3 linked regions of the Homo sapiens genome follow. The protein of the gene in region 3 interacts with the protein of the main gene of each other region in a biochemical or structural test. Each region holds a gene or a part of one and is shown on either strand. Other genes may lie near its edges.

Region 1 (3,653 bases), on a different chromosome or scaffold from region 3:
GCGTAGAGCCGCGTTCTGTTTCTCCAGGTCTTCGCTCTCCTGTAGGGGTGGGGATCAGCACCGGAGGTTAGTGTCTAGGAAGGAGGCAAGGTGGGTGGGGTGCGGAGGGACACAGGAGGGGCCAGATTAGTTGTTCACTAGCACAGCCATGGAGAAGGGCACCAGAGAATTTTCCTGCACGTGTGAATGTGTGCACAAGTGTATATATGTTTGTAGGTGTGTATGGGCGCGTTTACGTAAGCACATGGGTGGGTGTGCATGTATACACATAGATATGAGGCTGAACCACGTGAAGCTGCTGATATTTGTCTGTTGTGACCTATAAGAATAGCAATTTCAGGCCGGGCGCGGTGGCTTACCCCTGTAATCCTAGCCCTTTAGGAGGCCGAGGCGGGCGGATTGCCTGAGGTGGGGAGTTTGAGACCAGCCTGGGCAACGTGGCAAAACCCTGTCTCTACTAAAATACAAAAACAGAAATTAGCTGGGTGTGGCAGTGCGCCTGTAGTCCCAGCTACTCAGGAGGCTGAAACAGAAGCATTACTTGAACCAGGGAGGCAGAGGTTGCAGTGAGCCGAGATTGAGCCACTGCACTCCAGCCTGGGCAACACAGCAAGACTACATCTCTCCTCCCGGCAAAAAAGCAATTTCATATGGTTCAACCTGATAGAGGGGTGTGTGTGAGTGTGTTCCTCTGCGTGTATGCATGTAGGGGTCTCTGTGAGGGTGTGTGGGTGGGAGGTGGCGGGAATACAGCAAGGGAAAGCAGCTGGCAGGCCAGAGCCTAAGGAAATGGAAGGTCGTTTGTGAGAACGTCTTACACCAGTTTCACTCTTTTCCACTGTGTTATGCCACGTGTTTTCCAAAAGCTCCCGGTGTCTGCATTTCGTCTTACAAATAAAGTCACTGGATACTTGTCTACTGCACCCAGATTCTAGAATGCTCAGGGTCTTTATAAATAGTAAATGGGGCCAGGTGCGGTGGCTCATGCCTATAATCCTAGCATTTTGGGAGGCGGAGGTGGGTGGATCACCTGAAGTCAGGAGTTCGAGACCAGCCTGGCCAACATGGTGAAACCCTGTCTCTAAAAATACAAAAAAAAAAAAAAAAAAAAATTAACCAGGCGTGGTGGTGCACACCTGTAATCCCAGCTACCCGGGAGGCTCGGGGAAGAGAATTGCTGAAACCCAGGAGGCAGAGGCTGCAGTGAGCCGAGATCATGCCACTGCACTCCAGCCTGGGTGACAAAGCAAGACTCCATCTCAAAAATAAAAATAAAAATAAAAATGAAATAAATAAATACTAAATGGTCAAAGTCTGCTACAACGTTTTGTTCCACCCTGTCCGGCCTACCAGAAAGCATTCTGACGGTATTTTGGGGGTGTCCCAAGCCTGTGAGCTTCTCTTTTTTCTGGAAACTCTTTTCCCTGTTGCTTGGGGGAACCATCAAATACATGCTAATCAGAAAAATGCCTGCTAAGAAGTGCTGATTTCTGATCACATCATTAATTAATCAACAATTGCAATCTGGTAATTAGCAATTATGGAAAAGCAATCCCATCCTCAGAAAGCCCAGGAGATCGCAATTCCGGTATAATTTTAAGGTTTACATTATTCGACTCAACCAAACAGACTTTCTCTGCTAAGCATTGGTAACCACAGAGGAAAGGCAAATATCATTGGAGATGCAAAAAAAAAAAAAAAAAAAAAATTTCAGTTCAAAAGGCAACCTGATATTTGGAGACCAGGTCTTACCTTTCTAAATCTATTTGGATTAGGTCAGTATTTCCCAAACTTGCCATATCATGAGAATTAATTTGAAGGCTTGTTAAGAATAGAATTTCAGGCCCATCCTAAAATCTAGGAATGTGAATCAGTGGTTTTGGGATTTGCGGAGTGAAGTCTGCAGATCTGAATTTTTTTTTTTTTTTTTTTTTTTTTGAGACAGTCTCACTCTGTCACCCAGGCTGGAGTGCAGTAGTGTGATCTTGGCTCACTGCAACCTCTGCCTCCCAGGTTCAAGCAGTTCTCCTGCCTCAACCTCCCGAGTTGCTGGGATTACAGGCAGGCACCACCACGCCTGGCTAGTTTTTGTATTTTTAGTAGAGACGGGGTTTCACCATGTTGGCCAGGCTGGTCTTGAACTCCTGACCTCAGGGGATCTGCCCACCTTGGTCTCCCAAAGTGCTGGGATTACAGGCGTGAGCCACCATGCCTGGCTGCAGAGCTGAATTAAAAAAATAATAATAATTTTTTTTTTAAATCCTAGCCACTAGACTACTAGGGAGTGAAATTTGGATTTTTAACTAGTGCCACAGGTCATTCTAATGATCAGGCAAGTTGGAAAGCACTAGTTAAATATTATTTTAAATTTGTTTTAATTATTCAAGCACTTATTAAATGCCTATTTGTTAATGCCTGGCTCAATGCCTGGCACATAGTATGAACTCAGATGTTTGTTGACTGACAGACTTATGACATCATCTGCTGGAATGAAGAAGGTAACTCAAAAATAGGGTGGGTGGTGAGCAGATGTAAGATAACTTGACATTTAAAATTTGCCCTAAATAGGCTGGGTGCAGTGGCTCACACCTATAATCCCAGCACTTTGGGAGGCCGAGGTGAGAGGATCGCTTGAGCCCAGCAGTTTTTTGGTTTTTTGGGTTTTTTTTTTTGAGACAGTCTTGCTCTGTCTCCCAGGCTGGAGTACAATGGTGCGATCTCAGCTCACTGCAACCTCTACCTCCTGAGAGCCCAGGAGTTTAAGACCAGCCTGTGCAACATTATTGAGACCCAGTATCTACAATAATAAAAATAAAAGAAAATTAGCTATGGAGCACCAGGGGTTGGAGGCTGCAGTGAGCCATGATCATGCCACTGCACTCCAGCCTCACTGATGGAGTGAGGTCCTCTCTCAAAAAATAAAATAAAATAATAAAATAAAATTTGCCCTAACGAATCCATCAGGTGCATGAGCTGTAGGCTAATGAGGTTAATCGGTTATACTGTCAATCATCTTAAACCCCACATCCTGGGGGGGGTCTTTCTAAATGGCAGAGAAGCATATACCAACATGGCCTTGCTCATCAAGCCAGGTTCCATCATCTGTGAAGGACAGACACAAGCATGCTCAGCCTCAACCTGGCATTTCTTGAATGGGGCTCTGAGCTAGAAAGTGTGCCAAGGTCAGTACAAAGGAAGCCCCTCTAAAACGGGGCAGAGGAGTTATCAAGAGCCACGATGATGGAGTCACAGCCCTGCCTTCTGCAAGGTGTGGCCGGCTCATTCATTTTACCATTTGGGTATTTCCTGGCACATCCCAGAAGGAGGGCATCCCCTCTTTACCGAAAGGTAAGATCAAGCAACACGATGAGACTAGGGGGTGTTGGTAAGACGGGAACTGGGGGCCGGGAGTCCTGGCTCCTTCCTCTAGCCCTTTTCTTCGCCCCCTCTGAGAGTTTCCACTGGTGACAACATTTACTGTAAATTCTGTGCTCTGAAGAGCCTGGGCAAACCCCGAGGCAGAAGGGAGGGCCACTCTGACCTTCTCCCCGCCTAGAGGCTGGCCCAGCTTTCGGGAAGTGACAGCGGGTCCTTCCTCCCTAAGCAAGCTCTGCTGAGCTCACTCTAGCTCTGTCGTCTGCCTCCCCCTCCCT
Region 2 (3,653 bases), on a different chromosome or scaffold from region 3:
GGAAAAAACATAATTTTCCTTTATGATACGGCTTGGCCCCCAGGGCAATGATGCTGCAAGCTTGAACACTAGGACCACTAAGGGAAAGGGAACCCAGAAGCCTGGGATGCTGGCAAAAGGGTAAGAATGTATTACCAGTCAGATTTCTGGCTTCTCTCTCACTGTACAAATGGTTAAGTGAATGGTTAAAAAAAAAAAAATCAGCCTGGCACGGTGGCTCAGGCCTGTAATCCCAGCACTTTGGGAGGCTGAGGCTGGTGGATCCCCTGAGGTCAGGAGTTTGAGACCAGCCGTGGCCAACATGGTGAAACCCTATCTCTACTAAAAATACAAAAAATTAGCTGGGTGTGGTGGCGTGCGCCTGTAGTCCCAGCTACTTGGGAGGCTGAGGCAGGATAATCACTTGAACCCGGGAGGCGGAGGTTGCAGTGAGCCGAGATCGTGCCACTGCACTCCAGCCTGGCAACAGAGCGAGACTCCATGTCCATCTCAAAAAAAGAAAAAAAAGAACACCTGTAAGCTCGCTTTTCAAGATGACCCAGCAAGCTGGTCAGTAAGATACTTGGCTGCAGGTCCCTGTAACAAATAAAAGACTGGATGAAGTCTCCACCTTGTTTTACGTCCTTGGGAGCTTGACCTTTTAACCATGTGGTGGTACTTTCTTTTGGTCCCCACCTTCAGAGAACAGGAATTTCAGGATTCATGTCATAGTTAGCTCTAAAAATAATATTAAATAGTTAAAAGCCCTTATAAGCTCAAAATTAACTACTCTAGACTCCTTCTGGGAAGGTCAACAGAGACTGCCCTGTGCTGTAGCTCAGTAGCTAAGCTTTTGCACTTTCTTTTTTTTTTTTTTTGAGATGGAGTCTTGCTCTGTCGCCCAGGCTGGAGTGCAGTGGTGCGATCTCAGCTCACTGCAACCTCCGCCTCCCGAGTTCAAGTGATTTGCCTGCGTCATCTTCCCAAGTAGCTGGGATTACAGGTGTGTGCCACTACGCCCAGCTAATTTTTGTATTTTTAGTAGAGATGGGGTTTCATCATATTGGGCAGGCTGGTCTCGAACTCCTGACCTCAGGTGATCCACCTGCCTCAGCCTCCTAAACTGATGGGATTACAGGCATGAGCCACCGCACCCAGCCAGCTTTTGCACTTCCGTGGCAACAGTCCAGGTTCAATTACCCACCTAGGAAGTAAGTCGTTTCTGGTTTAATATCTGCATGACTTTGTCTATTCTCTTCTCCTCTGTGAACTGTCTTATATTTTCCTTTTTCTAAGCACCTGGGAGGTTACCTTTGATAAAATTCAAAAGCCAGAAATACCAGCCGTTTGGCATAAAAACTTCTAAAAGGACTTTATTAAAGAGTGCTATGGTTAAAATAAGTTTAATTAAAAGTGGATATTCAAGCTCTAACAGCCTGGACTCCTTGGGAAAAACAAGAGGCACCAGAGACCCCTTTCGTGGCCCTGTTCTTCCAAGGGCTCCACCCTGAAGCCGGTAATCCAATTAAGAAACTTAAAAACTGGCAAATGAAAAATCTTACAACCACTGTTATCATCATCATCTGTCTTTCTGTGTAGCTATATAGGTGTCGTGTGTAATATTTATATAAAAGAGCTCTGATTAATCAGCTTAAACAAAAATAAACATTTAAATCAAATATTTTGAAAGCAAAATAACTAATGCCTTTTAGTTCATGTAACTTTAGTAATCTTTAGGAAATAAACACATCTTTAAAATTGATAAAAATGTTAATCTTAATTATGCAGGTCAGATATTAAGTTTGTTAAATGATTTGAGGTCATAAACTGTTTCTTTGACTTTTAAAAATTGTTCAATTTACCCTACCTTAAAGCCATTAGATTCTAGATAAGGCCTGGGGACATGTGGAGTTAGCCACGCCCCTAAGCTGTGCTGGAGAGTCAGCTCTTATCTGCACTTCTGCCTGGTGTGTCCTAGGCTAGGCTCCACACCTAGTACATAATTAAAATTGCTTACTAACCAGGGTTTTCACCAAAAGTAAAAGTCGCTAAAAGTTAAAATTGGAACATGTAACTGAGACTATTGAAGAGACAGTTTTACATGTAAGGTGTGTAGTAAGGAAAATAGAATGTACTTTTGGTAAAAGATTATAAGAAGGCATGGAAATGTGGGGTTTTTTGGCTAAAGAGTTAAATAATTATTCTAAGTTGGCCGGGCACAGTGGCTCAAACCTGTAATCCCAGCACTTAGGGAGGTCGAGGCAGATGGATCACCTGAGGTTAGGAGTTTGAGACCAGTCTGGCCAACATGGTGAAACCCCATCTCTATCAAAAAATACAAAAGTTAGCCGGGCATGGTGGCGCACACCTGTAGTCACAGCTACTCGAGGCTGAGGCAGGAGAAGCGCTTGAACCTGGGAGGGGGAGGTTGCAGTGATCTGAGATTGCACCACTGCACTCTATCCAGCCTGGGTGACAGAGCGAGACTCCATCTCAAAAAAAAAAAAAATTCATACAGGAAGCATTATCAAATGTCAAATGGTGTTTTGCTTTCTTTGGATTATATTTACATAACTGTATTATTGGTATATGTTCCAAAGTTATGGGAAACTCCTATAATTCTAATATGATTTAGTGTATGTTATTAATAATTATAATTGTTATGCAAAATATTGTGTGCCACAGAAGTAACCAAATTTCCTTATCATTTCTGGCTTTAATAGTGGCTCTCCTAAAACTTTTTATCATCCACAGACAATTGTTGTCTTGTTTTAATCCTGTTTAGAAGATGATTTATAATCAGCTATAGAACTCTAGCAGGTGTTCTTAAATGCAGGTTTCTAATAACTTTGGAAATTGTAACATTAGAATAGAGGAAACAACTTTCAGAACTCATGAAGAGCTAGAATGTTCATGAATATCAAATGAAACATGAGTTAATTGAATCAACTGAACCAATAGAAAACTGAAGTAATCTTTGATTAAAATGTTGCTGATCCTTTGTTTTGTTTTTCAGAGTCAAGGAAACTTTTCATTTGAGCTATTTACAGTTCATAGCAATTGAGTAAAGTATACTGCTGTGAACGAAATTTGGAACATATTTGTTTCTCTATATCAGATTTCTCCAGAATTTGGAAACTAGTTGTGAGTATTCTTAACTTATGGCAATGTAATTATTTGCATAAGTGCAATAAGAATCTGTTTTCTTTTGTAACAGAATACAATTGGAGAAAGTGGTTATTTTACCAAGGCTTTGACTGAAATGGTGTGCTTTTCTTTAAGGAATCAAACTTGACTTGTAGAGCCAATAAAAGCCCTTTGGGGAACTGGCCTCATACCTTGCCTACACAGTGCCTGTACAGGGTTTCTGACCTATGGTAAGTAAAGAATGTCACTTTCTCACCTGTCCAGGAGCCCCAAGTTATCTTGGGACCTCAAAAGGAGAGAAATTTACCCAAGTTATAGGTATTTAAGGGTACAAACCCATGTCAGGGCTTGGCTTTTAAAAAAGTCTTATCTGAGATTCCTTATGAAACAGAGTTCCATCAAAGCCAATTAAAAAGCCTATGTGAAAAATTATTATTCTTGCTGCACTTTATACAAACAATCAGGCCAAGTATAATAAAGCAAGTCAGTCTTACCATAATTTGTCTTTAGTAAAAATGGGAAACTGG
Region 3 (3,653 bases):
ATAGCTCTCTAGAATCTCAGCTCCTCTGCTATTTGTGACCACTGTTGCCAACCTGCTCAAAGAAGAAAAGGTGGCCCAGCCTTTCTGGGGTCTGGAAAAAGACAAACTAGTCCAAAGACAGGAGGCCCTCAGAGACAAAATATACTTTTTAGAAATCTAAAAAAAAATACCTATAGTTTGAATAGCACTTGTGACAGTCTTTTACCACAAAGAGACAACGAAGTAGGGAAAGTTAATCGTAATTACATGCTCATCCCCAAGCAGCATTTCCTTTGACTTCTCTGGATGACAACTGAAACTGAAGGCATGCCAGCAAAGAATCCGAGTGAGCTGGGCAAAATGCTCTCTACTTCAACAGTCTTTTGCTAATGTGAAAGAAAAAAAAAAAAACAAGATTACAAAAGCCAAAAGCTTTTTTTTTTCTTACCTCTTTTAACCTGAATTATGACTCTTACCTAGGGGAGTACCCAAGGCCAGGCTGAGATACACCTCAGAAAAACAGTTGATAAAGAGACATCAGGTACACTGGAAATTGAAGAGGCCTGGGCCAAGATCAGATAACCACTGTACATTTTTTAAAATAATATTTAAATATAAAATACACATTAATGAAATTACAACCTAATAAATTTATTCAATCTTTTATAGCCACATATTTTATAACAAAACTGTCTGATGGATGAGCAACTGCACTAATTTAGCTGACTTCTGAAAGACGCTGGCACACTTTAGAAAATGAATAAGGCAATAAGCATGTGAAGATATCAGTAAAGAGGAAGTTGGGTGGATAGGTCGCCCTATTTCTTCAATAGGACCCTCAGGAGTTCACCTCCTTAGGACAAAAACACCTCCCTAGGGTCCTGGAGGCAGACAAATCAATAAAAAGAAGAGATAACTGGAAAAAAGGTGTGTAGGGGGAGGGAGGGACATTTCCCTTACTATACTATTTACTCTACAGCCTTAGAGGTAGGCTATTACTAATGTCCAGGCTACAAAGGAATTGAAAACCTTTTTTAGTGTAATTCCACTTTAATGAGGGATGGGGAAGTAGAGTGCAACTGTCCACTGACTGATCTGATCTAAAAAAATGATAAATTTAAAAAGTGAAAAAAACTTTACCTGAAAGAAACTGGGAATAATTAGGGGCCAGGCACAGTGGCTCACGCCTGTAATCTCAGCACTTTGGGAAGCCAAGGCGGGTGGATTGCTTGAGGTCAGGAGTTCGAGACCAGCCTGGCCAACATGGTGAAACCCATCTCTACTAAAACACAAAAATTAGCTGGGCATGGTGGGGGGTGCCCCATAATTCCAGCTACTACGGAGGCTGAGGCAGAAGAATTGCTTGAACCCAAGAGGCGGAGGTTGCAGTGACCCGAGATCGCGCCACTGCACTCCAGCCTGAGCGACAGAGTGATACTCCATCTCAAAAAAAAAAAAAAGAAAAAAAAAACTGGGAATAACTAGTTTATTACAAAAATATTAGTTTGAACGATGACTTTCCTAAGGCACTGCAAAAAGTGTTTACATTTATTTTTCAAATAACATGATCTGCACAAAATTTCAGCTGCATTAATGTAACATTTTCTAAATTGTGCCCGTACTGAGAAGGAACCAGCTGCCAGCCAATTTCACTGCATGCCCACTGTGTTTCTACACTGGTCATTAACAACCAAGATTCTGGCTACCACTATTTCTTCTTCCTCACGTTTGCTTCAGGGCAGTTTTTTATTATCCTATGAATATTTGAATATTTTCTAACCTGTCCCTGATCCTAAATAAAACAAAGAACCTGTTCTAGAGGAGTGATATTCAAAGTATTAGACATATAAGACATTTAACATCTAGAAAACCAAATTATATTTTGCTCAATTCAATTCTAATCCAATTATGGGTAAAAATAAGTCACAAGACAAGTTTTATGTCTATCTTAGGAGATGAACTAGAATTACTTAATTCCAGCTGCCTTCTCAATAATCACACCAATGATAAAAACAGAAAGTAGAAAGCTAAATAATCAAAAGAATTTCAACTCAGTGCACACTTACAAGGTACCACACACGATGTTCTCTCCTTCAATCTGTTAAACATTCCCAAGTTTCAAAATCACAGAACTAGAATGAACGCATATCATACCACCCAGTTCAGCAACCAACAGTTTATTAAAGAAACACAGCCAAGGCACATTCAGAGTGCCATAGGAGATAAAACAGAAAGACACAGATTCTCACCATCAGGAAACTTACAATCTGGCTGAAAGAATGGTCAAAATAACACAACCTTTCTGAATTACTAACAGGTACAAAAAGCTATACGATAAATATGTCCATTGTATTCATATCCATTTCATGGATAATTTTTCTGTATTAGTACAGGCATATCATCTAAAGAAAACATAATACTTAGAAGAAACTAATTAGCTTACAAATTTACATTCTAAATGTTTCCAACAAACTGGATAGGGCCCAGGAATATGTACTGAGAAACTAGTTCTGTTCTGGTATTAACAAGAAGGGAGGGGTGGACAGGTTACTAAAGCTGCCAGGCCACAATGTCAACTACAACGTGGAAAAGACTAGCCAAAGAATGGCAAGTGTTTTTATTTCGTAAAAGCCAGTTTCAATTAACTGGTTAGTGACTACCTCAAGCACTCCGCTGAGACTGTTAAGATTCCTTTAAGTAAAAAGCTATGTCCTGTGTTCGTTGCCCTCAGAAGTTGGATGTATGTTTGAGATGGTGCTACTGACTTAACATAAGAGTGTTCCCCGGGTTGTTTTTCCAGTCTCACTTGTGATCAATGCCGGCAATTCAGCTCTCAACAGCTATAAAACACTACTGTGTAACTAAGTACTTCCCTGATTCTGAACAACAGATAATAACACCTAACACTTGATGTTTCTTATAAAGCTGGCACTGTTCTAACCACTTACCCCGTATTAACGCATATAATCCTCACAACAACCTCTCTGATACAGATTCTACTATCACCACCCCTGTTTTACAGAGGAAACAATGAGGCACTAGTTACCAGGTAGAAGAGCTTGCCCAAGGCTTTAAAGTGGGTGACACAACCAGAACCTGACCTTAAGCAGTCTGGCTCCAGAACTACTTTTTAACCATTCTGCTTACTGCTTCTTTGTCAACTGTACAGTGATCAAACCCAGACTTCAGTTATGTTAGTGCACTGTGTAAGCCAGGTGCCTGGGCTTCAGGAGAGTGTAAGTCAATGTTTTAGCTGCAGTCCTGAAATGTTTACTCCCTCCAAGGGGCACGGATTCTGGCGAATTGCACTCAAATTACCCATACCTTGGCCATCGGTACATTACCTCATTTGACATATATTTTAAATCAAAACAATCTCAAAAATCATCGTTCCACCACATAAAATAAACCCTCTGTCTAGAATGCTCAGGGAATGCAGGTTTTAGGGTTAAGACAATTCTCTCATTAACAGAACATTAGTCAGAAAATTAGAAGAGAGGTGGTGATTCCTAAAACGTAAGTCATGGAGAGATCAGCACTATGAAGAGAAAATCTGACAAGTGGTAATTTTAACGGGCTTTGCAACTGTTATTCTGAGCATCACCTCTCACAGTACAGGGGTGTAGAAGGCACATGGCACATGAGATTTAACTGAATGGTAAATACTAACCACC

What was found.
Region 1: the proteins of BACH1 (region 3) and BATF interact in a test that uses a peptide from one of them, tested with the Homo sapiens proteins (one large-scale study listed by IntAct).
Region 2: the proteins of BACH1 (region 3) and ATF1 interact in a test that uses a peptide from one of them, tested with the Homo sapiens proteins (one large-scale study listed by IntAct).

The regions. Positions count from the first base shown.
Region 1 is NC_000014.9:75,542,848-75,546,500, reverse strand, and holds part of BATF (basic leucine zipper transcriptional factor ATF-like), read right to left. Parts: intron 40-3,653; coding exon 1-39. UniProt on the Homo sapiens protein: AP-1 family transcription factor that controls the differentiation of lineage-specific cells in the immune system: specifically mediates the differentiation of T-helper 17 cells (Th17), follicular T-helper cells (TfH), CD8(+) dendritic cells and class-switch recombination (CSR) in B-cells.
Region 2 is NC_000012.12:50,767,034-50,770,686, forward strand, and holds part of ATF1 (cyclic AMP-dependent transcription factor ATF-1), read left to right. Parts: exon of another isoform or gene 1-120; intron 121-3,653.
Region 3 is NC_000021.9:29,301,916-29,305,568, reverse strand, and holds part of BACH1 (transcription regulator protein BACH1), read right to left. Parts: intron 366-3,653; exon of another isoform or gene 247-365; intron 1-246. UniProt on the Homo sapiens protein: Transcriptional regulator that acts as a repressor or activator, depending on the context. Binds to NF-E2 DNA binding sites. Plays important roles in coordinating transcription activation and repression by MAFK.